Regions from separate parts of the Homo sapiens genome. Here regions 1 and 3 are each linked to region 2. The links come from fine-mapping of genetic effects on gene expression. A gene starts in region 2. Each other region holds a variant in brackets. All regions are shown on one strand. Distances are between the middles of the regions. Region 1 holds the start of TSPAN16-AS1 (TSPAN16 antisense RNA 1). Region 2 holds the start of PLPPR2 (phospholipid phosphatase related 2). Region 3 holds the start of TSPAN16 (tetraspanin 16).

What was found. PIP is the estimated chance that this variant, and not a neighbour inherited with it, causes the effect.
Region 1: its variant is fine-mapped to the expression of PLPPR2 in whole blood (TOPMed, PIP 0.98).
Region 3: its variant is fine-mapped to the expression of PLPPR2 in whole blood (TOPMed, PIP above 0.99). The same link has a PIP of 0.9 or more in blood mononuclear cells and monocytes.

Annotation. Positions count from the first base shown.
Region 1 is chr19:11,320,956-11,328,523 of GRCh38, forward strand. It overlaps RAB3D (RAB3D, member RAS oncogene family), which reads right to left. Exons shown (of 5, transcript NM_004283.4): 5 at 1,113-4,630. The coding sequence ends at 4,443. TSPAN16-AS1 (TSPAN16 antisense RNA 1) reads right to left here and starts at 370. Exons shown (of 3, transcript NR_187778.1): 1 at 269-370. It also overlaps a transcript of TSPAN16 not described here. RefSeq lists an enhancer at 3,293-3,502. The variant A/G (reference allele first, on the strand shown) is at 2,874.
Region 2 is chr19:11,348,634-11,357,814 of GRCh38, forward strand. It overlaps PLPPR2 (phospholipid phosphatase related 2), which reads left to right and starts at 6,799. Exons shown (of 10, transcript NM_001393892.1): 1 at 6,799-6,939; 2 at 8,169-8,343; 3 at 9,027-9,106. The coding sequence starts at 9,041. CCDC159 (coiled-coil domain containing 159) reads left to right here. Exons shown (of 11, transcript NM_001080503.3): 2 at 1,021-1,054; 3 at 1,305-1,393; 4 at 1,485-1,566; 5 at 2,175-2,370; 6 at 3,273-3,340; 7 at 3,424-3,500; 8 at 4,818-4,939; 9 at 5,159-5,241; 10 at 5,947-6,063; 11 at 6,240-6,311. The coding sequence ends at 6,244. RefSeq lists enhancers at 1,837-2,337, 7,711-8,652 and a silencer at 6,619-7,068.
Region 3 is chr19:11,289,192-11,299,376 of GRCh38, forward strand. TSPAN16 (tetraspanin 16) reads left to right here and starts at 6,969. Exons shown (of 7, transcript NM_001282509.2): 1 at 6,969-7,175; 2 at 8,951-9,148; 3 at 9,681-9,755. The coding sequence starts at 7,107. RefSeq lists enhancers at 9,002-9,503, 9,504-10,003. The variant A/G (reference allele first, on the strand shown) is at 4,637.

The DNA of each region.
Region 1 (7,568 bases), 28 kb before region 2:
GTCAGGCGTTCGAGACCAGCCTGGCCAACGTGGTGAAACCCCGTCTCTACTAAAAACACAAAAATTAGCCAGGCGTAGTGGAGTGTGCCTGTAATCCCAGCTACTCGGGAGGCTGAGGCAGGAGAATTGCTTGAACCTGGGAGGCGGAGGTTGCAGTGAGCCAAGATGGCACCACTGCACTCCAGCTGGGTGGCAGAGTAGGACTGAGTCTCAAAAAAAAAAAAACAAAAAAATACCCAAAAAAACATAAGAGGTTTAATTTACTCACAGTTCAACATGGCTGGGGAGGCCTCAGGAAATTTACAATTATAACAGAAGGCAAAGGGGAAGCCAGATACCTTCTTCACAAGGTGGCAGGAAGGAGAAGAGCCGAGAGAAGGCGGAAGAATCCCTTATAAAACCATCAGATCTCGTGAGAACTCACTTGCTATCAGGAGAACAGCATGGGGGAACCGCCCCCAGGATTCAATGACCTCCACCTGGTCTCTCCCTTGACACGTGAGGATTATGGGGATTACAATTCCAGATGAGATTTGGGTGGGGACACAAAGCCAAACCATATCAACTGTGACTACCTTGGGTAAGGGCCATCCAGGCAGAGGCAGGGGGAACATTCTGGGCAAAGGCCTTGGGGCAGGGGCCTGGTATGTTCAGATAGCAGCAAGTAGGCCAGAGTGGCCGGAGGGGAGCAAGTGTGGGGAGGCCAGTGGAGAGATGAGGGTAGGGAAGGGATGGATCAGATCATGCAGGGCCCCGGGGGCCACAGGAAGGACCTCAGCATTTACTGCAAGTAAGGTGGGAGCCATCGAATGTTCTAAGCAGAGGAGGAATGCGCTGTGACTCAGGTGTTCACAGGTGCCCTCTTGCTGCTGGGGAGAGAACTGAGCTTTTTACTAGAAGTAGTTGAGGGAAATAGTGTCCTCCCTACCTTCCATATAACAGAGCTTTCCAAGGTCAAGGTGGTGGCCATGGGACCCAGTGGGAGGCAGCCCGAGGCCCGGTGAGGTTTCTGCTGTGTCTTGAAGAGCCCTTGACTGATATCTGCTTAGTTGCAAATCAAACCCCCTTTCCCAGAAACGCACTTCACTAATGGAAATAAAAGCACAACTATATTTGGGCACGACGGATTTAAGTTTTTCTTGTTGAGAAGAGTACATCTTTCCAAACTGGACATCAAGGAATTGCTACACAGAAGAACCACATCCAGGATAGAAAGGACCAGCCAGAGCTCGTTCAGTAGTGTATTTCAGAATCATCAGGGAGGAGCCGGTAGCAGAATTATCCCGTTAACACTGAGACCACATTTCACCTGTTACTTATTTTTCTAAATGGAGTAGGAGAGAAAGATGCTAAAATGTGATCTTGGGAGGAGTCCCCCAGTCCCCCGAAAAAGAAGAAGAAAAAAAAAAAGCAGAACTCCAAACCCCTGTGGTCATGGCAATTTCCCATCAAAACTGCCCATGTAAAATAAACACAAGCTGCTAAAAGTGAATGTTAAGAAGGAAGGCACTGGTTAGTGGGTGGTCCTGACCAATCCCCTGGAGCTGGAGAGGGGTTTTCCCACGGCCTTTGGTTTAATGTGTCTGTAAACTCAACAAACCTCCGTTTCCCTGAGGTAATCTGCAAAAACATCAGTTTTCAGTCCCCAGAGACCATTTCCAATTAAACCTCACCCCCCAAATCATTCAATGTAACATTTGCCTTATTTTTAGAAGAAACAAATGTTCCCATATTATTCCCAGTTTTTGAGAGAATCCTGAGGCAGCTCTCTCGGCTGCTACTTGAAGTTGAATTCTTGAAAAATCTTATGTAAACAGAAAGCTTAGGCCAGGTCAGGAGTAAAATGCAGTCAAAGCTGTTTCTCATCACACAGGTGATTACAGGTTAGCTCTGCCCTATTCAAGACAATCTGATCCATTCCTTTTTTTGACAGCAGTTTAGAGACAATTGGCCAACAAAACCAGCCTGGCCAACAAGGTGAAACCGTCGCTACTAAAAATGCAAAACTTAGATGGGCGTGGTGGCAGGTGCCTGTAGTCCCAGCTACTTAGGAGGCTGAGACAGGAGAATCGCTTGAACCCGGGAGGTGGAGGTTGCAGTGAGCTGAGATCATGCTACTGCACTGCGGCCTGGGCGACGAGCGACTCTCTGTCTTAAAAAAAAAAAAAACAAAAAAACCTCAGCAGGCCATACTGCATCTTGAGAAGTCTTTTTGAAGCTACTTTAGTTTGACTTTAGTGTTAAAGTAGCTAAAAATTTTTGACTCCCGCCCACATATTCAGATACCCTCACTTTGTGCATAGGATTTGTCCATTACACCTCAGTCATCTAATTTGTTGGTATAAAAGATACCCTCGGCTGGGCGTGATGGCTCACGCCTGTAATCCCAGCACTTTGGGAGGCCGAAGCAAGTGGATCACTTGAAGTCAGTTTGAGACAAGCCTCACCAACATGGTGAAACCCCTTCTCTACTAAAAATACAAAATTTAGCCGGGTGTGGTGGCAGGTGCCTGTAATGCCAGCTACTCGGGAGGCTGAGGCAGGAGAATCGCTTGAACCCTGGAGGTGGAGGTTGCAGTAAGCTGAGATTGTGCCACCGCACTCCAGCCTGGGCAATAGAGCGAGACTCTGTATCAAAAAAACAAATGAAAAAAAGATACCCCACTCCAAAGTTCTAAGGGTAGCCTCTGGTATGAAGAAACCAGGGCTCCCTAGAAATAAATCTAAACTTGAACCAGGCTTTCCCCCTCACACATACCCCAGGGAAGAGGCTGAGCTCATGAAAGCTGCAGGAAGTCATTTTGGCTTCAGGGGCTGGGAGAGCAGACACAACCTCTGAAACAGAGTCAGGGACGTGGGAACATAAAACATCC[A/G]CTTAGCCATCCTAACAGTGCTGGTCCTGTGAAGGGGTGTTGGTTGGTGTTTGGGAGCAAAGAAAAGGTGCTGCGCCCCTAGAGTTTGGAATCTGATGGGCAGAAAGTGCCTCTAAACCGGAGGTCAAGATGTACATCTTCAAACTGCACACGTAACCTCTGAGCAGAAGCCCCTGGAGGTGGGGACCCCAGCTTCAGAGACTCCCCGGCACTGATCACAGTCCATCCCCCCCATTCACATAAGGTCCTGCCACTCTCAGGCTGTCTACAAAGTACAAGCAGTGACAGCAAGTTACTCAATCCTACCTCCTCACCCCTTCCGCCCAACCCCCAGCATCCCTTAGAAGTGACCCCTAGTTTGAGGCTGTGGTGAGCTATGATTGCACCACTGCACTCCAGCCTGGGTGACAGAGCCAGACCATCTCAAAAAGAAAAAAAAAAAAAAAGAAGTGACTCCTCCATTAGCAAAAATTGTCACATCCCTGGGCCCTGCCGATGACAAGGATTGGGAAATGGACATTGGGTCTTGAAGGGCCCCCCTCAAGTCGGAGCCCAGGTGCTTACATCAGAAAGTCGCCGACAACTGCCTGCGGTGGCTGGGAACGTTGCTTCATTTCCTTTTCTAGCAGGATGCATGATTGGGCAAGAACTTGCTTAAAACACAACCAGCTAAACAGCTAAACAGGGCCTGGGAGGGAGGCCCCAGCCCCAGGCTCCTGGCTCTGAGGTTAATTAACTTCTGGCCGAAAGCCCAGAGCCGGAGTGCTAGGGGTTGGGCGAATCTCTGCCCAGTCTAATGTGGTCCATAGTTCCAGAATTCACTTCAGGATCAGAGATGTGGTGAACACAGCAAAAACAGTGGCAGGGTCGTGGGTGATGTGGATCTTGGGGGAAGCTTGGAAGGCACTTCTGGGGTCCCTGAAGCCGGGGGGTTGAGGGGATCTGACTCCCTGTCCCTTCTACAATGGGAAAAGGCTGCTTCAATGCTGCTTTTCGCAAGTAGAGGGTCTGCAGGGGTCAAAGGGATCACCATCCCACCTTGGAATCCAGAAAGTTCGTGGGGGCAGGCTCAGAGACCAGCCTGCAGGACCTGAGAAAGAGGCGCCGCCTTCCCTGGATGAACTCCAAGAACCCACACTGTGCGAGGAAGATGAACCATCTTCCACCAGCTTGGGAATATCAGTCCTGCCCAACCCAGAAGAGACCTGGAAAATGGTTCTAAGCTAGAAGGCACCACGGATGCCCCTCCATCAGAAAGAGTGGGACGTGTCACCCATGGCCACCCTCAACACACCCTGGAAAGCAGCAAGCTCATGCACGTCAGTGTCCCTGGGCCTCTGCCTGCCATGCAGAGCTGAGTCCCCATGGTCCGCAGCCTCCCACCGGGGCTGCCTGAGGAACCTGGCAGCCACGGCGACATTGTGAAGGAATGAGCCATGCAGGAGTCGGGGAGCAGTTGACAGGAGGGAAGGGATTGCCCTGAGCTTGGAGATAACCACTGTGGCTCACGCCTCGATCACAGTCCCTGCCGAGGCAGGAGAGGGGTGGGTGGGGGGTTGGGGGCCATCTCTAGCAGCTGCAGCTGCTGGGCTGGGGGGCTGGAGCATCCCCCACGGCCGGGCCTTTCCCGTTGCTGCCTGAGCTGGAGCTGGGTTCCAGGGACTCGTTCATCTTCTCGCAGATGACATCCACCAGGCGCTCGAAGACCTGCTTCACATTGATGTTCTCCTTGGCACTGGCTTCAAAGAACTCGAAACCTGGATGAATGTTAAGGTGGGGACACTCGTAAGACCCCTGAGGGCAGAGTCTCAGCTGTGGCATCACAGAAACCTGGCTTCTAAGCCTAGTTCTGCTCTTTATCCTGCTGTGGGACCTTGGTTGTGTGCCTTTGCCACTCCAAGCCTCAGTTTGCTCACCTGTAAAATGGGAATGATGATCCTACCAATGATAAAAATCTGTGGCAGGCCAGGCGCAGGGGCTTATGCCTGTAATCCTGGCACTAAAGGAAGCTACGGCGGGAGGATCGCTTGAGGCCAGGAGTTCAAGACCAGCCTGGGCAACATAGCAAGGCCCTATCTCTACAATAAATTTTTTTAAAAAGTAGATGGGCGGCCAGGTGAGGAGGCTCATGCCTATAATCCCAGCACTTTGGGAGGCCGAGGCGGGAGGATCATTTGAGGTCAGGAGTTCAAGACCCGCCTGACCAACATGGTGAAACCCCATCTCTACTAAAAAGACAAAAAATTAGCTGGGCATGGTGGCACGCGTCTGTAATCCCAGCTACTCGGGAGGCTGAGGCAGGAGAATTGCTTGAATCTGGGAGGCGGAGGTTATAGTGAGCTGAGATCACACCACTGTACTCCAGCCTGGGCAACAGAGCGAGATTCTATTAAAAAAAAAAAAATAGAGGGGCATGGTGGCGTTCACCTGCAGTCTCAGCTACTCGGAAGGTTAAGGCAGGAGAATGGTTTGAGCCCAGGAGGTCAAGGCAGCAGTGAGCCATGATCACACCACTGCACACCAGCCTGGGTGATGGAGCAAGACCCTGTCTCAAAAACAAAACAAAACGAAACCCTGCGGCTGCAGCCATGGTCTGGACAATCCTAAGATCTCTTTGTCACAAGGCAGTGGCTGCAAGAGTATAGGTGGGAGGGTACATGAAGAGTTCTGCTGCCCTGCGGCCATGGCAGTGCCCACAGGTGGCTATAGCTCAGCTTCCACCCAATTTCTGCTGCACAGAAAGGCATGGTCAGGAGACCCATCAAGTCACATTTTCCATTGCTTTTTTTAAAAGAGAAACGGTCTCTCTCTATTGCCCAGGCCGGGGTGTAGTGGTATGAACATGGCTCATTGCAGCCTCAACCTCCTGGGCTCAAGCGATCCTCCCGCCTTGGCCCCCTGAGTAGCTGGGGCTACAGGTGTGCCCCACCATGCCCGGCTAATTTTTCAATTTTTTCTTTTGTAGAGGTGGGGGTCTCGCTATGTTGCGCAGGCTGGTCTTGAACTGCTGGCCTAAAGCGATCCCCCCGCCTAGGCCTCCCAAAGTGCTGGGTTTACCAGCGTGAGCCACCACGCTGGGCTTCCTGCATCCTTTTAAGGTTCCTGAGGGTCTGCCTGAGAGGAGCTGTCCCTGAATCTCCATGCAGCCCCACCTGCCACATCACCAAGGTAAGCCAGGAATTCAGACAAACGCCTGCCACGTTACACGTGGCCAAGGGTAAGTGGACCTGTCTTCTCTGTGCGTCATGCTGAACTATGAAAATGGAATCATAATGAGTTAGCTGTGTAATTACCCATTTATTATCTGTCTCCGCTACTAGAAAGCCAGCTCCAGGCAGGCAGGATTTCCGCCCATGGCTGTACCCAGTGCCCGACACAGAGAGGGTGCTTAGAAACTGTCTGCTGAATGGTTGAATGAATGAATGGGTAAATGAACAATAGCAGGGGCAGGACATGAACTTAGATCTCCTACTGTCAGCCCAGAGATATCAAAGCCATCCCACTGTCTTCCTGGGCAAATCTGGTGTTTCCTTATCCACGCGTGGCTTTGCCTCATACCATCTGTGTTCTTTATTTTTCTTTTTGTTGAGACAGAGTTTTGCTCTTGTCGCCCAGGCTGGAGTGTAACGGCACGATCTCAGCCCACTGCAACCTCCGTCTCCCGAGTTCAAGCGATTCTCCTGCTTCAGCCTCCCAAGGAGCTGGGACTGCAGGTGTGAACCACCATGCCAGGCTAATTTTTGTATTTTCAGTAGAGACAGGGTTTCGCTATTTTGGCCAGGCTGGTATCGAACTCTTGACCTCAGATGATCCACCTGCCTCAGCTTCCCAAAGTGCTGGGATTACAGGCATGAACCACCGTGCCCAGCTTATTTTTCTGATATTAATCAGGCGTGGTGGTATGCGCCTGTAATCCCAACTACTCAGGAGGCCAAGGCAGGAGAATCACTTGAACCCAAGAGTTCAAGACCAGCCTGGGTAACATAGGGAGACCCTGTCTCTAAAACAAATAAAAATTTTAAAAAGGAAAAAAAATACATTTTTTGGATGTCATTCAATAGAGAAATTTACTGGAGAAACTAGAAACTACAGAAAAGTATTAAGACAGCCTATAATCCCAGTACTTTGGGAGACTGAGGCAGGTGGGTACCTGAGCTCACAAGTTTGAGACCAGCCTGGGCAACATAGCAAGACCCAGTCTCTAAAGAAAATATAAAAATTAAGGCCAGGCATGGTGGTTCACGCCTGTAATACCAGCATTTTGGGAGGCCAAGGTGAGCGGATCACTTGAGGTCTGGAGTTTGAGACCAGCCTGGCCAACATGATGAAACCCCGTCTCTACTAAAAATGCAAAAATTAGCTGGCCATGGTGGTGCACACCTGTGATCCCAGCTACTTAGGAGGCTGAAGCAGGAGGATCACTTGAACCTGGGAGGCGGAGGTTGCAGTGAGCCGAGATTGTGCCATTGTACTCCAGGCTGGGTGACAGAACAAGATATTATCTCAAAAAAAAAAAAAAAAAAAAGAAGAAGGTTGGGGGGTGCCAGGCGTGGTGGCTCACGCCTGTAATTCCAGCACTTTGGGAGACGGAGGTGGGCGGATCACGAGGTCAGGAGTTCGAGACCAGGGCCAATACGGTGAAACCCCGTCTCTACTAAAAATACAAAATTTAGCTTTGTGTGGTGGCACGTGCCT
Region 2 (9,181 bases):
ATAACTGAGAAGCCTTGAGTTTAGGGCTGAGGCCTCTCTGGCATGTCAGGGAGGGTCTGGGGGCACTGGGGACATGGGGACTTATCTCAAAGCAGCCCCTGCTTCCCTACTCACAGCGACCCTCTTTTGGCCGGCCTACCCCGGGACCCTGACTACTCTGTGTCCTGCCTCTACTCACCTCCCTCACCCTCCAGCATGTGTTTGCCTGCTAACATGAAGTGTGACAAGTACTGGGGTTAGTTAGGGGGCTCCCATAGGGCTGGGGACACTGGGAGGGGCTGGGAATGTGAGGAGTGCCCTGCACTGTCCCTCAAGGAAGCCCTCACCCCTAGGCTCTTCCTCGGACAAGGCTCTGGAGCGTACAGCTCACTGGTCCAGGACTCCAGAGCCAGAGACCTTGGGATGCCCTGCTTCTGGGGACACAGTGAGGACTGCAGACTGCAGGCCAGGGTGGGGCTCAGGGCCTTCGCCACATGAGGCTGCCCCCTCCCCCAGTCCAGACCTGCAGAAGCAGTGCTGTAATGACCAGGACATTTTGAAGAGGCATCACAACGTAGCTAAGGTCACCCCCACCCGGGAAACCCCTTCAATGCAGAAAACCACTGCAATCTACTGCTGTGGGGCTTAGGGAAGGGGCTGTAAGGCAGAGAGACTCCCATGAATGCACCCACTGTGTTTCTTCAGCACCTAGAACAGCACCTGGCACTCAGCAGGCCCTGGCTAAGCAAGTCTTAAATGAATGGATGAAGGAATGAATGGAAGGAAAGAGTGTGGTTGTGTGTCTTCCATGGGGATTTGGCTGTGATCGTCTCTCAGCCACATAAGTGCACTTCTGAGCATATGTAGCCCAAGGGGGAGGTGCATGAATATGCCTGGAGTGCAGCTTTGCCTGCACTTACGGTTTGGGACACCTAGAACTGAGGAGATCCAACTCTTGTCCAGCCCTCAAAACTGGGTTGAGGTGAGCAAGGAGGCAGCTCAGGGACAAATTTCTACTCCCATCTCATCTCTCTTCCTTAGAAGCCCTTGGAGACCAGCTCTTCCAAAGTCAAAGGTGAGAAATCTCCTTTCCAACAAAACTGTGTGGGGAAGACCTGCTGGTTTCTACCTCTACCCTCTGCCCCAGCATCAGCTGTCCCCCTGCCATGGTCACCCATTCACTCCTGCCCAAGGCTGAGTGGGCCCCTGTTCTATATCTTATCCCCTGTCCCTACTGCTACTCTGAGCCTTTGCTGACCTCTGCCCTGCCCTTGCCCCAGACCCCACCCCTTACAGCCCTGGCTCACCCTCTTCTCTGCCCACAGCCAAGACCATTGTGATGATTCCCGACTCCCAGAAGCTCCTGCGATGTGAACTTGAGTCACTCAAGAGCCAGTTACAGGCCCAGACCAAGGTGAACCACCTTGGCCCTGCCCCCAGCAACCTCTGTTTCTCCTTGCCCTCCCCTCCTTCCTCCCACCCCAAGGCTGACCTCTTTCCCCCAGGCTTTCGAGTTCCTGAACCACTCAGTGACCATGTTGGAGAAGGAGAGCTGCTTGCAGCAAATCAAGATTCAGCAGCTTGAAGGTGAGGACTGACCAGAGATCAAGGTCAGGCTAGGCCAGGCGTGGTGGCTCACGCCTGTAATCCCAGCATTTGGGGAGGCCAAAGAGGTTGGATCACTTGAGGTCAGGAGTTTGAGACCAGCCTGGACAACATGGTGAAACCCCATATCTACTTAAAAAAAAAAAAAAAAAAAGCCAGGTGCTGTCACTCATGGCTGTAATCCCAGCACTTTGGGAGGCTGAGGCAGGTGGATCACCTGAGGTCAGGAGTTCGAGACCAGCCTGGCCAATATGGTGAAACCCCATCTCTACTAACAATACAAAAATTAGCCAGGCGTGGTGGTATGCACCTGTAGTCCCAGCCACTCAGGAGGCTGAGAAAGGAGAATTGCTTTCTGGGAGGCAGAGGTTGCAGTGAGCCGAGATCACGCCACTGCACTCCAGCCTGGGCAACAAAGCAAGACTTCATCTCAAAAGAAAAAAAGTCAGGCTGGAAGCTGGTCCTGTTGGGATCAGCTGGGCCAGGCCAGGGTGAGGGAAATTGGGAGAGTCTGGGTTCTGGGTCAAGATTAGGACAAGCTGGGTTCAGGGTGGGATCAGGGCTCAGTCAAGGTCCCACACTCTCTGCAGAGGTGCTGAGCCCCACAGGCCGCCAGGGAGAGAAGGAGGAGCACAAGTGGGGCATGGAGCAGGGCCGGCAGGAGCTGTATGGGGCCCTGACCCAAGGCCTTCAGGGGCTGGAGAAGACCCTGCGTGACAGTGAGGAGATGCAGCGGGCCCGCACCACTCGCTGCCTGCAGCTGCTGGCCCAGGAGATCCGGGACAGGTCGGGGATGGCGGGAGGGCAGCTTGGAGTCCACAGGAGGGAAGGGAGACCCAGAACTGGGGAATGGAGGCAGGATGGGGGAAATGGCAGATGCCTGGGGGAGGGGGACTGAGGGATGGTGGAAAGCCTGAGGGACAAGAAGAGGGAATGAGGCCGGGTGTGGTGGCTCATGCCTGTAATCCCAGCACTTTGGGAAGCCGAGATGGGCGGATCACCTGAGGTCAGGAGTTCGAGACCAGCCTGGCCAACATGGTGAAACCCCATCTCTACTAAAAATACAAGAATTAGTCAGGCATGGCGGCGGGTGCCTGTAATCCCAGCTACTAGGGAAGCTGAAGCAGGAGAATCACTGGAACCCAGGAGGCAGAGGTTGCAGTGAGCTGAGATCGCACCACTGCACTCCAGCCTGGGCGCCTGGGCGCCTGGGCGGCAGAGCGAGACTCTGTCTAAAAAAAAAAAAATGAGGAGGGGATGAGAGGCTCAGGGGAGACAGGTGGCTGGTGGGGGCGGGGGAGTGGGAAACTGAGAGGCCAGAAGGCAGGGAAGACAGAAAGCTGGAGGTGGGATGGAAAAGGAGGCCAGGGGATCAGAAAGGGGGATGGCAGGGAAGACTGAGAGGACAGGAGACTGGGGGTATAGAAAGTCGGGGGACAGGAGGTGGGGAGGTGGAGGCCAGGTGATAGGAGGCTGAGTGGGGTGGGAGAGACTGAGAGAATGGGAGGCTGGGGATCAGAAGGAGAGGAGGGGGATGAGGGTAGGGGGATTGTAGAAGGGGAGGGGAAAAGGGCAGGGAAGTGTGGGGAGGGGACAGAGCTTGCGGGGATGGGTGGAGGCACAGATAGGGGCATGGGAGGTCAGGGGCCAGGCAGGGAGTGCAGGTCTAGGCTGCACTGTCCCCTCAGCAAGAAGTTCCTGTGGGAGGAGCTGGAACTGGTGCGGGAGGAGGTGACCTTCATCTATCAGAAGCTCCGTGAGTTCCTGGAGCCCACAGCCGGTGTGTGGGGAGGGGGTCCTTCTTCAGCCTTTGTCCGCCTGAGCCCCCTCCCTCCACAGAAGCGCAGGAGGATGAGATCTCAGAGAACTTGGTGAACATTCAGAAAATGCAGAAAACGCAGGTGAAATGCCGCAAAGTGAGTGGAGGAGATGGGGACCCTGGGGAGGAGTGGGAGAGGGAGGGATGGGGATTTTGGCCAGCCTCCACCATGAGATTGGAGCCTGGGTTCAAATCTCAGCTCTGCCACTCACTGCTGTGTGACTGTGGGCAAGTCACTTGACCTCTCTGAGCCTCAGTTTCCTCATCTGTATAATGGATGTAATAATAACTCATCTTGGCTGGGCGCGGTGGCTCACGCCTGTAATCCCAGCACTTTGGGAGGCTGAGGTGGGTGGATCAGAAGTTCGAGACCAGCCTGGCCAACATGATGAAACCCCGTCTATACTAAAAATACAAAAATTAGCTGGGTGTGGTGGCAGGCACCTGTAATCCCAGCTACTCAGGAGACTGAGGATGGAGAATGGCTTGAACCTAGGAGGCAGAGGTTACAGCGAGCCGAAATCGTGCCATTGCACTCCACCCTGGGCGACAAGAGCAAAACTCCCATCTTAAAAAAAAAAAAGAAAAAAGAAAAAGAAAAAGAAAACTCATCCTGTTGGGTGCTGTGGCATGCCTGTTATCTCAGCACTTTGGGAGGCTGAGGTGGTTGGATTGCTTGAGGCCAGAAGTTCAAGACCAGCCTAGGCAACATGGCAAAACCCTGTCTCTACAAAAAACAAAAAAAACAAGAGGGTGTGGTGGCACATGCCTGTAGACTTAGCTACTCAGAAGGCTGAGGTAGGGGGATCACTTGAGCCTTGGAGGTTCAGGGTGCGTTGAGCCCTGATAGTACCATTGCACTCTAGCCTGGGCGACAGACTGAGACCCTGTCTCAAAAAAGAAACAAACACCAAAAACAAAAACAAAAAACAAAACAAAAAAAAACACTCCTCCCTACCTGATCAGGTGTCTGTATTAGCTGAGTACTGTGCACTTGAATGCAGTCTGGCATATAACAAGTGCTATATAACAGTCACCTTTTACTATTATCATTATTATTATTTATTTTGTTTTCTTTTTTGAGACGGAGTTTCCCTCTTGTTGCCCAGGCTGGAGTGCAATGGCGCGATCTCAACTCACTGCAACCTCTGCCTCCTGGGTTCAAGCAATTCTCCTGCCTCAGCCTCTCGAGTAGCTGGGACAACAGGCGCCCGCCACCACGCCCGGCTAACTTTTTGTATTTTTAGTAGAGATGCGGTTTCACTGTGTTAGCCAGGATGGTCTCAATCTCCTGACCTCGTGATCTGCCCGCCTCGGCCTCCCAAAGTGCTGGGATTACAGGTGTGAGCCACCGCGCCTGGCACTATTGTCATTATTATTATGACTGCTGTTCTCTCATCCCTCCCCACCCCAGATCCTGACCAAGATGAAGCAGCAGGGTCATGAGACAGCCGCCTGTCCGGAGACTGAAGAGATACCGCAGGGAGCCAGTGGCTGCTGGAAGGATGACCTCCAGAAGGAACTGAGTGATATATGGTGATGCCCAGCCTGCAGTCTGACCCCTGACCCTCCTCTGAACCCGTTCCCCCAACGGGATCTGGCAGTGACCACCAGAACCTGGAGCCCACCTGAGTCCAGACTTCCCTCACCCCCTAGGACTCACCCCACCACGGCCCCCAACCTTAGCTGTACTGCTGTCTACACCCTGAGCAGTGTGGAGTCTCCCAGCGCCCCCAGCTCCTTGTCTTCTTGCAGGTCTGCTGTGCACGTGCTGCAGAACTCCATAGACAGCCTCACTTTGTGCTCGGGGGCCTGTCCCAAGGCCTCGAGCCTAAGAGGTGAGGGAGGCTGAGAATTGCTCAGGGGTGGGAGGTCATTGTCTAGCTTCACAGGGAGGCTATGTTCAGAGAGCCTATTTGGGAGTCACATCTGATGGGTGTTATTCTATGGTCACATTAAGTAGTGTTCTGGGGTCACATTAAGGAGTCACTGGAGGTTTCATCCAGGAGTCATTCATGGTCACATTCAGAGTCACTTGGATCTTATATGAGTCCATGGGGACTCCACACAGTGGCTCATGCCTGTAATCCTAATATTTTGGGAGGCTGAGGTGGGAGGATTACTTGAGTCTAGGAGTTTGAGACCAGCCTGGGCAACACAGTGAGACCCCATCTCTCCAAAAAATTTAAAAACTAGCTGGGTGATGGTGCACCTGTGGCTGAGCACACCTGTAGTCTCAGCTACTCAGGAGGCTGAGACAGGAGGATCGCTTGAGCCTGCGAGGTTGAGGCTGCAGTGAGCCATAATCGTGCCACTGCACTCCAGTCTGGGCAACAGAGCGAGACCCCATCTCTAAAAAAAAAAGTGTCAATTGGGTAAAATGCAAGGGTCATTGAAGTCATAATTTGGTGTCACACTGGATCACATTCAAGGGAATTGGGGGTCATGGTTTAAGTATCAATGAGGTATACTATGAAGGGACACAGGGCCTATATTTGGGGGTTACTTGAGGGTCACATTCAGGGAACCTGTCCCTCCTGCAGGCCACAAGGGGCACCAGTGCCTGAGCCCTCCACTCCCCTCCTGGGACTCTGACTCCGACTGTGACCAGGACCTCTCCCAGCCACCTTTCAGCAAGAGCGGCCGCTCCTTCCCACCCGGTGCAGATCCTCCCCAGTCCCCCCCTCCACCCATTTCCCTCCTGACCTGCCCTTGACTCCCACAGTCTAGACCCTCAGAACAGGCCCAGATCCTGATCTGGGCATGCGGTCCCTGACCTGCAGCCCCGGAGTCCCCTGGACCTGGCCAGGCCCTGACCCACCCTCTCTCTCCACAGCTTGAGCAGCCGGGACTGCTCTCCCTGAAGACCCCTCCAGAGAGAAAATAAACTAGCCCAGACCCTCCTCTAGCCCCGACTGTTAGTCTTGCTGCTTCCTGTGCCTAGGAATCCCCCTGCCCTCCTAGTTTACCCCTCATTGTTGGGGGGGAGGGGTGTAGAGACCCCAGGGGTCATTCGGGATGTGTGGGCTTGGAATCAGGGGACATCTGAAGCCAGATTTAATATATGACAAGGCAAGGAGTCATTCTGTCCAGACACGAGCAGCCAGACAGACTTCCACACTGGCCACAGAGCCTTCCTTTCTGGGGGGCCCTGGCGAATGGGGAAACTGAGGCCCAGAGAGGGAGAGGCGCGGCCCAGGGACATACTCTGAAGCCCCTCCCTCCTATTACCCTCGGAGCCCCGCCCACCCCAGGGTCCTCCCTCTCTACTTCCATTCTTGGTTCCTTCCTACAATCGATGCTAACACGCCCCGCCTCCAAGATCACGGAGGCCCCGCCCCACGGGGCTATGCAAATGAGACGCCCGGAGGCCCCGCCCCTCCCTCCACCTCGGAGTCTGCGCGGCGCGGCCAGGCCCGGCCGACCGCGTCTCGGTCTTCGCGTCTGCCAGCCTGGCTGGCAGTCCGTCTGTCCATCCCGCCGCGCCGGGGCAGTCTAGGCGGAGCGGGGGCTCAGGCGGCGGCGGCCTCGACGCGGTGAGAGGAGGGGGTGGGGGCGCCCCTCATCCCCTCCCGTGGGCTTCCCACCCCCGGTGTCGGTCTCCGGTTCCTGAGGGTTGGGTCCCTCTGGGTCCAGCGCGGGGAGGGGCGGGGGAGGGGAGGCGGCGAGCTGGGGGAGGGGACCGGGCTGGGGGAGGGGACCCCGGGCCGAGGAGCCAGCACCGGTGGTGAGGGCGGCTGTGGGTAACTGTGATTGTGTGGTTGTCATTGTGTGTCTGTGTGTGGTTGTGTAACTGTCATCGTGTGGCTGCATGACTGGGATTGTGTGGTTTCGGGAGGTCCGCGGGTGTGTGTGTGTGTGTGTCACTGTCATTGTGCGGCTGTCGTTGTGGGTGTCACTCTGATGGTTTGTGTGTGTGTGTCTGGCTATGCTGTGACTGCCATTGGCCCCCCGTGTGGCTGCTGTCTCTGTGTGTGACTGTCTTGGTGTTCGTGTGGTTGTGTGCATAGGACTGTCATTGTGTGGCTCCTGTTGTGTGTTCATTCTGATGGTGTGTATGTGTGTGTGGCTGTGGTCGTGCGCTGTGCACCTTTCTTGTGTGGCATTGTGAGTCTGTGTCATGGTCCATGGATGTGGCCATGTGGTTGTAGATGGCACCTTGTCTCTCCCCTGTGACTGTTGGTGTGAATAAGAGACTGTTAGTGTGTGTGTGGCTGTCGCTGAGTGCCTTGTAATTGGGGGTGTGACGCTGTGATGAGTTCTGTGACCCCCATTGTGTGCGGTGACTCTTTTCTGTGACTCTTAAGTGTGTTGCAGGCCTGACTGTGTGTCCCTGACTGTAGCGGTGTGGGGGCTTGTGTGGGACTGTGATGTGTGTAGGGTCTCCTGACATGTCTCTCTCTGTTTGGCCTGGGGTGGGGGTGGGGACTTGTTTGATCTGTTTGGTGTCTCTGACAGGCTATGAGCCCACTGTGTGTGAGTATGCAGTGACATGTGTTGTGTGTGTTGGACACCTGTCTGAACAAGGGGGCCCCTCTTGTTTACTGCAAAGTGGCGCCCAGCACAGCGCCTGGAAGTCGGCAGGTGCTCGGTCTTCACTGTGGGATGGGTGAACGCTATGCCATGGTTGTGTGTGTGTGTGTGTGTGTGTGTGTGTGGTGCCAGGATGGAGGCTGCGGCTGGGTTGTGCTTCCTAAGGGTGACAGCATGGGTGACTCTGGGTATCTAGGACCTCTGGCAACCATCACCCCATATCACACTGCAGAGTGAGTGTCGTGGTTGGGGTGCTGGACCCAGAGTGCCTACCCTCGCCTGCCTGGGCCTCAGTTTCCACATCTGCACAATGGGGGTGACCATCCCTGCCCTGCTGGCTGCCAGGAGCGGCTGTGAGTCTTCAGGCGTGGATGCAGCCTGGGGGAAGCCATAGGGCGCTTTCACAGGTGAGATGGGGCTGGGAGAATGGATGCAAGCAGGTGTGACTGTGTTGAGCCCTAAAGCGCTGGGGACTGGGGGTAGCCTTGGGGGAGGGAAGAGGAGAACTGGGAGGCAGACCGGCTGGGAAGAGGGGGAAGGAGGGAGAGGCAGTTGGCAGAGAAGGAGGGCTTGGCTATCAGCCCAACCAGACACCAACACCACAGCCCATGGGGACAGAGAGAGGGGCCCCTGCAGAGGCCATGGAGGAAGCGACTCAGGGGAAGGGTCTGGTAGGGATGGGGGCCCCTTGGGAAAGAGGATGGTGTCCCCTAAAAACTAGTGGGGACCCTTCTAAGTGCCATGGGGGAGGGGTTCCCATGAGGCTGGGGAGTCTCTTCTAAAGGCCCACCTCCTAAAGGGCATTGGGTCAGAGCCTCCCATGTAGGCTGTAAAGGAAGGGACCCCCGTAGACTCTTGGGGAGTGGTGTCAGAGGAGGCAGGTGTCCCCAGTAGGGTCAGGACCAACAGGGCAGGACCTGGATTGCAGAGGCATGGCCAGAAGGTTCAAGGGACAGAGTCAGGGCCTCCCCGGGTCTTCAGGGCCAGGGGTGTGGCCAAAGGACTCAGGGGATGAAGCCAGGGTCCCGGTGACCTGAGCCTTCCCCTAGGCACACCCCCTGGGACTCCCACTCCCTCCCCACCTCTGCAGGCCTGGCCTTCACCATGGCGGGAGGGAGACCGCATCTGAAGAGGAGTTTCTCCATCATCCCCTGCTTTGTCTTCGTGGAGGTGAGGACCCCCGTACCTCTCCCAGAGACGGCGTGCCTATCTCTGTCTCTGTCCAACCTCAGTCTCCTTATCTGT
Region 3 (10,185 bases), 59 kb before region 2:
TTTTTTTTCGAGACAGAGTTCGCTCTGTCGCCCAGGCTGGAGTGCAGTGGCGTGATCTCGGCTCACTGCAAACTCCGCCTCCCGGGTTCACATGATTCTCCTGCCTCAGCCTCCCAAGTAGCCAGGATTACAGGCGCCTGCCACCACATACAGCTAATTTTTGTATTTTTAGTAGAGACGGGGTTTCACCATGTTGGCCAGGCTCCAAACTCCTGACCTCAAGTGATCTGCCAGCCTTGGCCTCCCAAAGTGCTGGGATTATAGGCATGAGCCACCGCGCCTGGCTCCCGTTGTCAATTCTTTTAGTTAAGAATTTGAGCAGGTGTGGTGGCTCATGCCTGTAATCCCAGGATTTTGGGAGGCTGAGGCAGCCAGATCACTTGAGTCCAGGAGTTCAAGACCATTGCTAGAGCCTGTCTCTACCAAAAATGGAAAAAAAAAAAAAAAAGGCAGGTGCGGTAGTGTGTGCCTGTAGTCTCAGCTACTCAGGAGGCTGAGGCGGGAGGATCACTTGAGCCCTGGAGTTTGAAGCTACAATGAACTATGATCACATCACTGCACTCCAGCCTGAGCAACAAAGTGAGATCCAGTCTGCAAAAAAGCAACAAAGATTTCTGCATTCATTTTCTCAGCTTTTGAGCATCTTTTCCTCTAGTTGGACAATCTTATACTTAATCAGCTACTAATACTTTCAAAGGGCATTTAAGGCCGGGCACGATGGCTCACGGCTGTAATCCCAGCACTTTGGGAGGCCGAGGCAGGTGGATCACCTGAGGTCAGGAGATCGAGACCAGTCTGGCCAACATGGTGAAACCCTGTCTCTACCAAAAATACAAAAATTAGCTGGGCATAGTGGGGCATGCCTGTAGTCCCAGCTACTGGGGAGGCCGAGGCAGGAGAATTGCTTGAACCCAGGAAATGAAGGTTGCAATGAGCTGAGATTGCACCACTGCCCTCGGCCTGGGCAACAGAGTGAGACTTCGTCTAAAAAAAAAACAAAAAAACAAAAACAAAGGGCACTTAAGTTGTTGTTTCCAATCATTCACAAGTCAAGCGAGGCTTAAGAGCAGGCATTAGCAAAACTACATTCTGCCACCCATTTTTGTAAATAACAAAACCATCTCATATTATAAATAACATTTTATTTTGACAGAGTCACACTTGTTCATTTACATATATTTACATATTGTCCATTTACATATTTTCTATGGCTGCAATAGCAGAGTCCCAACAGAGACGGTATGGTCCGCAAAGCTGAAAATATTTACTTTCTGGCTCTTTCCAGAAAAATCTGCCAGCTCTTGGCCTATGTGCATTTGAATAAATCTGTAGTAGGAATTCCTAGAAGGAGAAACATTCCCCACAAGGTTTTAAAAGTCCATTTGCGGTTGTTACAGGTCCGCCTGTAATAAAATCTCCAAAAGCTATTTATGAGGTCTTTTTTTTTTTTTTTTGAGACAGAGTCTCACTGTGTTGCCGAGGCTGGCGTGTGCAGTGGCAAGACCTCGGCTCAACGCAACCTCCGCCTCCCGGGTTCAAGCGATTCTCCTGCCTCAGCCTCCTGAGTAGCTGAGATTACAGGCATGCACCACCATGCCCGGCTAATTTTTGCATTTTTGGTAGAGACGGGGTTTCACCATGTTGGCCAGGCTGGTGTCAAACTCCTGACCTCAAGTGATCCGCCTGCCTTGGCCTCCCAAAGTGCTGAGATTACAAGCGTGAGCCACTGCACCTGGCCAACCTTTTCAATGTGTTTAAGTGAGATACTTGAGGAATATGGGATGGGAACAGTCTTGGCCACCCTGGGACCAGCTGCCCAGACAACAGAGGGAATTAGAACCCGATCCCCCATGCTAACAAGAACAGAAGCCCCCTCGAGATGTGTCACCTGCATGCACTGGTCTGGGGCCACTCGCTGCTTCCTGAACTCTCATCAGGACCCTCCAGTCCTCCTAACCCTTCAAGGTTGATACCCCTGAAACCCTCCCTTCTCATCACTGCCTGGGTATACCTTATATACTAAATATTTTTAATATTATCAAGGATCTTGGCTGGGTGTGGTGGCTCATACCTGTAATCCCAGCGCTTTGAGAGGCTAAGTCAGGAGGATTGCTTGAGCCCAGGAGTTCGAGACCAATCTGGGAAACATAGCGAGACCCCTGTCTCCACAAAAAATAAAAAAATTAGCCGGGCGTGGTGGCACGTGCCATTGGTCCCAGCTACTCTAAAGGCCAAAGCGAGAGGATCGCTTGAGCCCAGGAGGGTGAGGTTGCAGGGAGCTGAGATCACACTACTGTACTTCCAGCCTGGGAGACAAAGCGAGACCCTGTCTCAAAAAACAAACAAACAAACAAAAACCCATCTCCTGGTTCTCCTTAATTTCACTTCCCTCTTTTCCAGCCAGAAGCTAAGGTAGCTGAAGGGGTAGAAATTGCAGATCTTTCTTTATGTAGCAAGAGAGAGGAACTGGGAAAGCAGTGAGTGTCCCTGTAGGACAGGGGTCTTCTTATTTTATTTTATTTTTTTGAGACAGAGTCTCGCTTTGTCGCCCAGGCTGGAGTGCAGTGGTGCGGTCTCGGCTCACTGCAACCTCCATCTCCCCAGCTCAAGCAATTCTTCTGCCTCAGCCTCCTGAGTAGCTGGGATTACAGGTGCCCACCTGTAATTAACCGCATCCAGCTAATTTTGTAGTTTTAGTAGAGACGGGGCTTCCCCATGTTGGCCAAGGCTGGTCTTGAACTCCTGACCTCAGGTGATCCACCCGCCTCGGCCTCCCAAAGTGCTGGGATTACAGGTGTGAACCACTGTGCCTGGCCTGACAGGGGTCTTCTGATCACTCCTCAGTGCCTCCCAACCCACCATACAGAGCACAAAGTGTTAACCCTAAGGCAGAATGTGAACATGGGGAAACAAATGCAATTTTAAAAAACAACCAGCCAAACAAAAAAATCCCTAATGGTGGAAATGCTGTTTGTTTTTTTTTCATTTGGTAGCAATGATTACCATCATGCTCCTCTCCTGCCACAATGACGTCAGCCCCTGATGCTGAAACTTGGTGACACTTCTGTGCTTGTCCCCAGTGAGGGCTGAGGTGCACAACCTGGGAACTCCTAGAACAAGTGACTGATGCCAAAGGTGTGGACCAGCCTCTGCAAGGACAGACACCTTTCTTTTGTGTGTCCCAGACTTTTTTTTTGGATGGTGGATTCTGATTTGCCTCCTTCCCCAACGATGGCTATTAAAATACCTGAAACCATAAAATGCCCCTTTGTCAAGGATGGATCTAGGTTTTGTGAGGCGTAAACAAATACATTTCTGCCGCAAAGTTTACATGAACAAGTGAGCAGGCGAACCTACTGCCGCGCTCCTCTCTGACCTTGAAGGGTGGGCGCAAGCTCAGGTCTCATTCATTCACTATTTGTTGTTCAGTGCTCCCAAACACCCAATTGTTGCCCTTGACAACAAACACATGAATTTAAGAAGAGGAGTTCAGGCCAGGCACGGTGGCTCACGCCTGTAATTCCAGCACTTTGGGAGGCCGAGGGGGGTGGATCACTTGAGATCAGGAGTTTGAGACCAGCCTGGCCAACGTGGTGAAACCCCATCTCTACTAAAAATACAAAAATTAGCCGGGCGTGGTGGCGTTGCGCCTATAATCCCAGCTACTCAGGATCCTGAGGCAGGAGAATTGCTTGAGCCTGGGAGGCAGAGGTTGCAGTGAGCCGAAATCGCACCACTGCACTCCAGCCTGGGCAACAGAGAAAGACTCCGTCTGAAAATTAAAAAAAAAAAAAAAAAAGAGGAGAGTTTGTTGACTAATATGGGTCGTTGACATAAATATTCTGTGTGTGATTGTATTCAACACATTTCATTTTTTGGTTGTGATTTTTTTTTTTTTTTTTTTTTTTTGAGACGGAATCTCGCTCTGTCGCCCAGGCTGGAGGGCAGTGGCGCGATCTCGGCTCACTGCAAGCTCCACCTCCCGGGTTCACACCATTCTTCTGCCTCAGCCTCCCGAGTAGCTGGGACTACAGGCGCCCGCCACCACGCCCAGCTATTTTTTTTTGTATTTTTTTTAGTGGAGACGGGGTTTCACCGTGTTAGCCAGGATGGTCTCGATCTCCTGACCTTGTGATCCGCCCGTCTCGGTCTCCCAAAGTGCTGGCATTACAGGCGTGAGCCACCGCGCCCGGCTGGTTAATTGTGCTTTTTAAAAAATATCTCCCATCCCCATAAATATGTACACCTACTATGTGCCCACATAATTAAAAATTAAACAATTTTAATCCCCTAAAAATAAAAAAGGAGACCAAGCATGTGGAGAAATAAATGTCTCAACACACCATAAGGGTGTATTGGAGTGGCCCTTCTATGATTTTGACAATGATATTAAACGTCCTGGCCGGGCGCGGTGGCTCATCCCTGTAATCCCAGCATTTTAGGAGGCCGAGGCAGGAGGATGGCTTGAACCTAGGACTTAGAGGTCAGCCCAGGCAACATAGCGAGACCGCGTCTCTACAAAAAAAAAAAAAAAAAAAAAAAGCAAGTATCTTGCATTTGCAATTCGTCGGATGCCTGCAAAGTTCCGTGGGTGTGTGATGTAGGAATCTGGGGCACGGGAAGTTATTCTTGCTTC[A/G]TTTCCTGACGCTGACCGGCTGGGCGGGGTCCCTGGGGCACCCGGGCACATTTGGACGTGTTTGGCAGGGAGAGTCCTGGCCCAGCCCCGGCACGTAGGGCCGCGCTTCCACGGGCCGCCGCCAGGAGACGCGCGAGGCTGTAGATGCGGCTTTGCAGAGAAGCTGGGAGGGTAGAGGGGCTGGGGCGGTCGAGGGGCGGGGCTGCGTGCAGCCGGCCCAGATTCCTTTCCGGCCAGTTCCTTCCAGGAGCTGCTCCCACGTCTACAGCGCCGTCTGCTACTCACCCAGCTCTCTTGTATCTGAGCCTCATTTTCCCACCGTCCTTTAAGCCCGTTTTCCCACTGCTCATTTGCAGCCAAGTTTCCATCTCGCATCTTTGCGTCCCCCTTCTCTGCACCCTCCTTTGCACCCCCATTTTCCTGCTTTCCCTTGAGTCCACATTTCCCAGACCTCCTTTGCCCCCTACATTTTCCAATGCTCTCTTGCATGCCCATTTATCACCCTCTTTTGTGCCCCCATTTCCAGGCCCTCAGCCCCTGGTTCTGAGGTTCCTTACTTCAAATGACCTTTTTTTTTTTTTTTTTTTTTTCCTGAAACGGAGGAGTCTCCCTCTGTCTCCCGGGCTGGAGTGCAGTGATGTGGTCTCGGCTCACTGCAACCTCCGCCTCCCGGGTTCAAGAGATTCTCCTGCCTCAGCCTCCCGAGTAGCTGGGACTGCAGGCACCCGCCACCACAACCGGCTAATTTTTTGTATTTTTAGTAGAGACAGGGTTTCACTGCATTAGCCAGGATGGTCTCGATCTCCTGACCTCGTGATCTACCCACCTCGGCCTCCCAAAGTGCTGGGATTACTGGCGTGAGCCACCGCGCCTGGCTTCAAATGACCTCTTAAATAAAGGTGTGGAAGGACACACTCCTGGCTGTGAACAGCACCCGTGGTCCAGGAGGAGACAGCACTCCTCTGTGAACATCTTGCTTAGTTCTACATGTTCCAAGAAGCAGGCGATTTGACAGACATTCATTAAATTAATTAAAGTGTAAGGTATTTTCTCCCATTTGAACCATCCGCCTTCCCCCAATCCATGCAGGACCTGGACCCAGACACACCCCAGCCCAGGGCTGGACAGAGAGGGGATCGGGGTGGGGCAATGTGAAGCTGCTATGGTTAGGGTGGGGAGGTATGGGGGCAAAGTGGGCTACAGACTGCAGGATCTAGGCCTGGAGGTCTTCAGTGCTGACATACAGAAGGTTTTTGGTCCTGAAATGCTAACTACATCTATCACCATGGAGAAAAGCCCAATGACCTGCTACTTGGGAGGCTAAGGTGGGAGGATCACTTGAGCCAGGGAGGTCGTGGCTGCAGTAAGCCATGATCACACCACTGCACTCCAGCCTGGGCAATGGAGCAAGATCCTGTCTCAAAAGAAAAAAACCCAGTGACCAATGGCTCACAGTTCCAGGACTCTCTGCCTTACAGGTTCCTGCCCTCATGTTACTCTTGGGGCTTCAAAGCCTGGTCTTGCTTCCTGTGTGGCCTCAGGCAGTTCCCTTGGCCTCTCTGAGCCCTGTATGAAGGATGGGCCAAGTATGGGCTTGGGCTTGGGAGGCCCGGTGGCTTGTAGCTAGATTTCTGCATCACAGAGCCTCTGGATCCATTCATTCATTCTCCGCGGGTTTCTTAAGTACTGCAGTGCCAGGCTTTGGGGACACAGCTGTTTTTGTTTTTGTTTTGTTTTGTTTGAGACAGAGTCTCACTCCGTCAACCAGGCTGGAGTGGAATGGCACGACCTCAGATCACTGCAACCTCCACCTCCTGGGTTCAAGTGATTCTCCTGCCCCAGCCTCCCAAGTAGCTGGGATTATAGGCGTGTGCCACCACACCCAGGTAATTTTTGTATTGTTTGTATTGTTAGTAGGTCTCAAACTCCTGACCTCAGGTGATTCGCCCGTCTCCGCCTCCCAACATGCTTTGACTACAGGTGTGAGCCACTGCGCCTGGCAGGGGTCACAGCTGTTAATAGGACAGCCCAAGTTCCCCCCTCCCCCGCTTGGATCCCCCAGTCTACTAGGAGATGTCAACTGTGCAAGTGGTTAGCTCTGGGCACTATGCCCACAGGGTCCTGGTGGCATCTGGAGGGTACCAGGGTAGCATACCATGCCTGTTCTCTTTCCCTGCTGTGACCTGTTTGAAGGATGAGGAGCCAACAGGGGGCAGTTTGGGGCACCTGATTTCCCTGGACCATGAGCCTTGCTCCAGAACCCAATTGTGATGTGATAAAAGGCTTATGACCAGGGCAGGGGGCAGCTGCTGGGCCGCCTTGGACAACCATCAGGCAGCCAGGACACAGAGGGGCAGAGCAAGTCAGCATTGGCGCCCCTTCCTCAGATCCCTATCATCTTGGGAAACAGTAGCCCAGAGGTTCAGGAAGATGTTAACTTAAATGTTCAGGGTGCCCCAGTCTGTTCAGCATGGCTGAAATCCACACTCCGTATTCTTCCTTGAAGAAACTGTTATCTTTACTCAATGGCTTCGTGGCTGTAAGTATGTCACAATCCAGGCCCCTGGTTTGTTGCAGCCCTTCCTCCACAGTCAGCTCCCTGAAAGACAGAAATAAGTTGATCCAAATTGGCATCGAGATCTGTGGTTCCCTGGAGAAGCAGGAGGGATGTAGGGCAGACGGAGGAGGAGGAGCAGGGAGCGTGGGGACCTCCATCAACCGAGAGCTGGTGAAATCCAGCACAGATGAGTGTGATCTGGGGGAGCCCAGGTGGGTGATGGAAGAGCTTGGCTCTAAGTCAAATCCTGTAGCCGACCAAGTTGTTTGGGAAGGCCAGGAGAAAGGGTTATTTTCTTGATCTTTTAAATTTGTCACATTTTTTTCCTTACCGTAAAAGTAACCCGAAATGTACATTGCTAAGGAATTGTCAGGCCGGGGGCGCTGGCTCATGCCTGTAATCCCAACGCTTTGGGAGGCCAAGGCGGGTGGATCACGAGGTCAGGAGTTCAAGACCAGCCTTGGTCAATATGGGGAAACCCCATCTCTACTAAAAATACAAAAAAATTAGATGGGCGTGGTGGCACGTGCCTATAATCCCAGCTACTCAGGAGGCTGAGGCATGTGAATTGCTTGAACCTGGGCGGCAGAGGTTGGCAGTGAGCCGAGATTGTGTCACTGCACTCCAGCCTGGGCAACATAGCGAGACTCTGTCTCAATAAAAAAATAAAAGAATAAAAACATAAAAAGAAGTAATTGTCTTCATTGTAGCATAGTCTAAGGAAAAGCTGCCAGGAAAGAGAAGGAAATGAAATATCACTCCTCCTCTTCACTTGTAACATTTTAAAGAGAATTAAGGCCGGCTGTGGTGACTCATGCCTGTAATCCCAGCACTTTGGGAGGCCGAGGTGGGCAGATCCATTGAGCCAGGAGCTCGAGACCAGCTATAGTGAGATCCCCATCTCTATTTAAAAAATAATAATACAAAATAAAGTGTTATTGGAACATGGCCGTGCTCACTTATTTGGAGATTGTGAACAGCTGCTTTTGGGCTACACCAATAGAACTGCGTAGTTTCAACAGACACCTTAAGTCCTGCAGAGGCCACAACATCTGGGTTTTTCAGAAAAAAAAAATTGCTAATCCCTGTCCTATGACATTATTTTATTTTATTTTATTTTATTTTATTTTGAGACGGAGTCTTGCTCTGTCACCCAGGCTGGAGTGCAGTGGCATGATCTCAGCTCACTGCAACCTCCACCTCCCAGGTTTAAGCGATTCTTCTGCCTCAGCCTCCTGAGTAGCTGGGATTACAGGTGCCCACCACCACGCCCGGCCAATTTTTGTATTTTTAGTAGAGACAGGGTTTCGCCATGTTGGCCAGGCTGGTCTCGAACTCCTGACCTCAGGTGATCCACCTGCTTCGGCCTCCCAAAGTGCTGGGATTACAGGTGTGAGCCACTGTGGCTGGCCTATTTTATTTTTTGAGACAAGGTCTTGATCTGTCATCCAGGCTGGAGTACAGTGGCACAGTCATAGCTCACTGCAGTCTCAACCTCATGAGCTAAAGTGATCCTCCCACTGCAGACACCTGAGTAGCTGAGACTACAGGCACGCACTACTACTGGCTATTTTTTTTTTGTTGGGGAGAGGGTACAGATGAGGTCTTACCAAGCTGGTCTTGAACTCCTGGGCTCAAGTCTTGGCCTTGGCCTCCCAAAGTGCTGGGATTACAGGCATGAGCCACCGCACTCACCCAGTTCTATTTGTATACAACTAACAGATTACTTTTCTTCCTTTCTGGTTTCTGTTCTAAAGGTGTCTGGCATCATCCTAGTTGGCCTGGGCATTGGTGGTAAATGTGGAGGGGCCTCTCTGACGAATGTCCTCGGGCTGTCCTCCGCATACCTCCTTCACGTTGGCAACCTGTGCCTGGTGATGGGATGCATCACGGTACTGCTTGGCTGTGCCGGGTGGTATGGAGCGACTAAAGAGAGCAGAGGCACGCTCTTGTTTGTAAGTTGGATCTGCACACAGACCCCAGAACTGCCTCCCCACACACACAAATCTTTTATTGTGCGTGTTGCAAACAACTTTGCTTGGTGTCACCTATTTTTTTTTTTTTTGCGGGGACAGGGTTTCACTCTGTCGCCCAGGCTGGAGTGCAGTGGCACAATCTTGGTTCACTGCAACCTCTGCCTCCCAGGTTCAAGCGATTCTCCTGCCTCAGCCTCCCGAGTAGCTGGGATTACAGGCACCCCTACCATGCCCTGCTAATTTTTGTATTTTTAGTAGAGACGGGATTTTGCCATGTTGGCCAGGCTGGTCTTGAAGTCCTGACCTCGTGATCCACCCGCCTCGGTCTCCTAAAGTGCTGGGATTACAAGTGTTGAGCCACTGCTCCCGGTCGAATTGTTTTAAACTGGAGAGGCCAGGGTGGCCTGGGGTGGAGGGTCGGGGGAACAGAGACAACCCCTCACCTGCAGGGTATAAGGTCGGGAGGAGGCTGAGCAGGCTCCCAGGCCCTCTCTCCCCGTGTGTCTTTTAGTGCATCCTGTCAATGGTTATTGTCCTCATCATGGAAGTTACAGCTGCCACAGTGGTCCTTCTTTTCTTTCCAATTGTAAGTACAGCCCTGCTCCTCCCACATAGCATTAGAAAGATAAAGAACCAAGGACGGGCACAGTGGCTCACGCCTCTAATCCCAGCATTTTGGGAGGCTGAGTCTGGTGGATCACCTGAGGTCATGAGTTTGAGACCAGCCTGGCCAACATGGTGAAACCCCGTCTCTACCAAAAATACAAAAAATTAGCCAGGCGTGATAGCACGCACTTGTAATCCAGCTACTCAGGAGGCTGAGGCAGGATAATCCCTTGAACCCGGGAGGCAGAGGTTGCAGTGAGCCAAGATTGCACCACTGCACTCCAGCCTGGGCAACAGAATGAGACTCCGTTAAAAAAAAAAAAAAGATATAGAACCAATAGAAGTCCGCCCCTCCCCGCCAGGCACCCATGATCGATTGTGGGGACCCAGTGATGGAGGGGCCCATCACA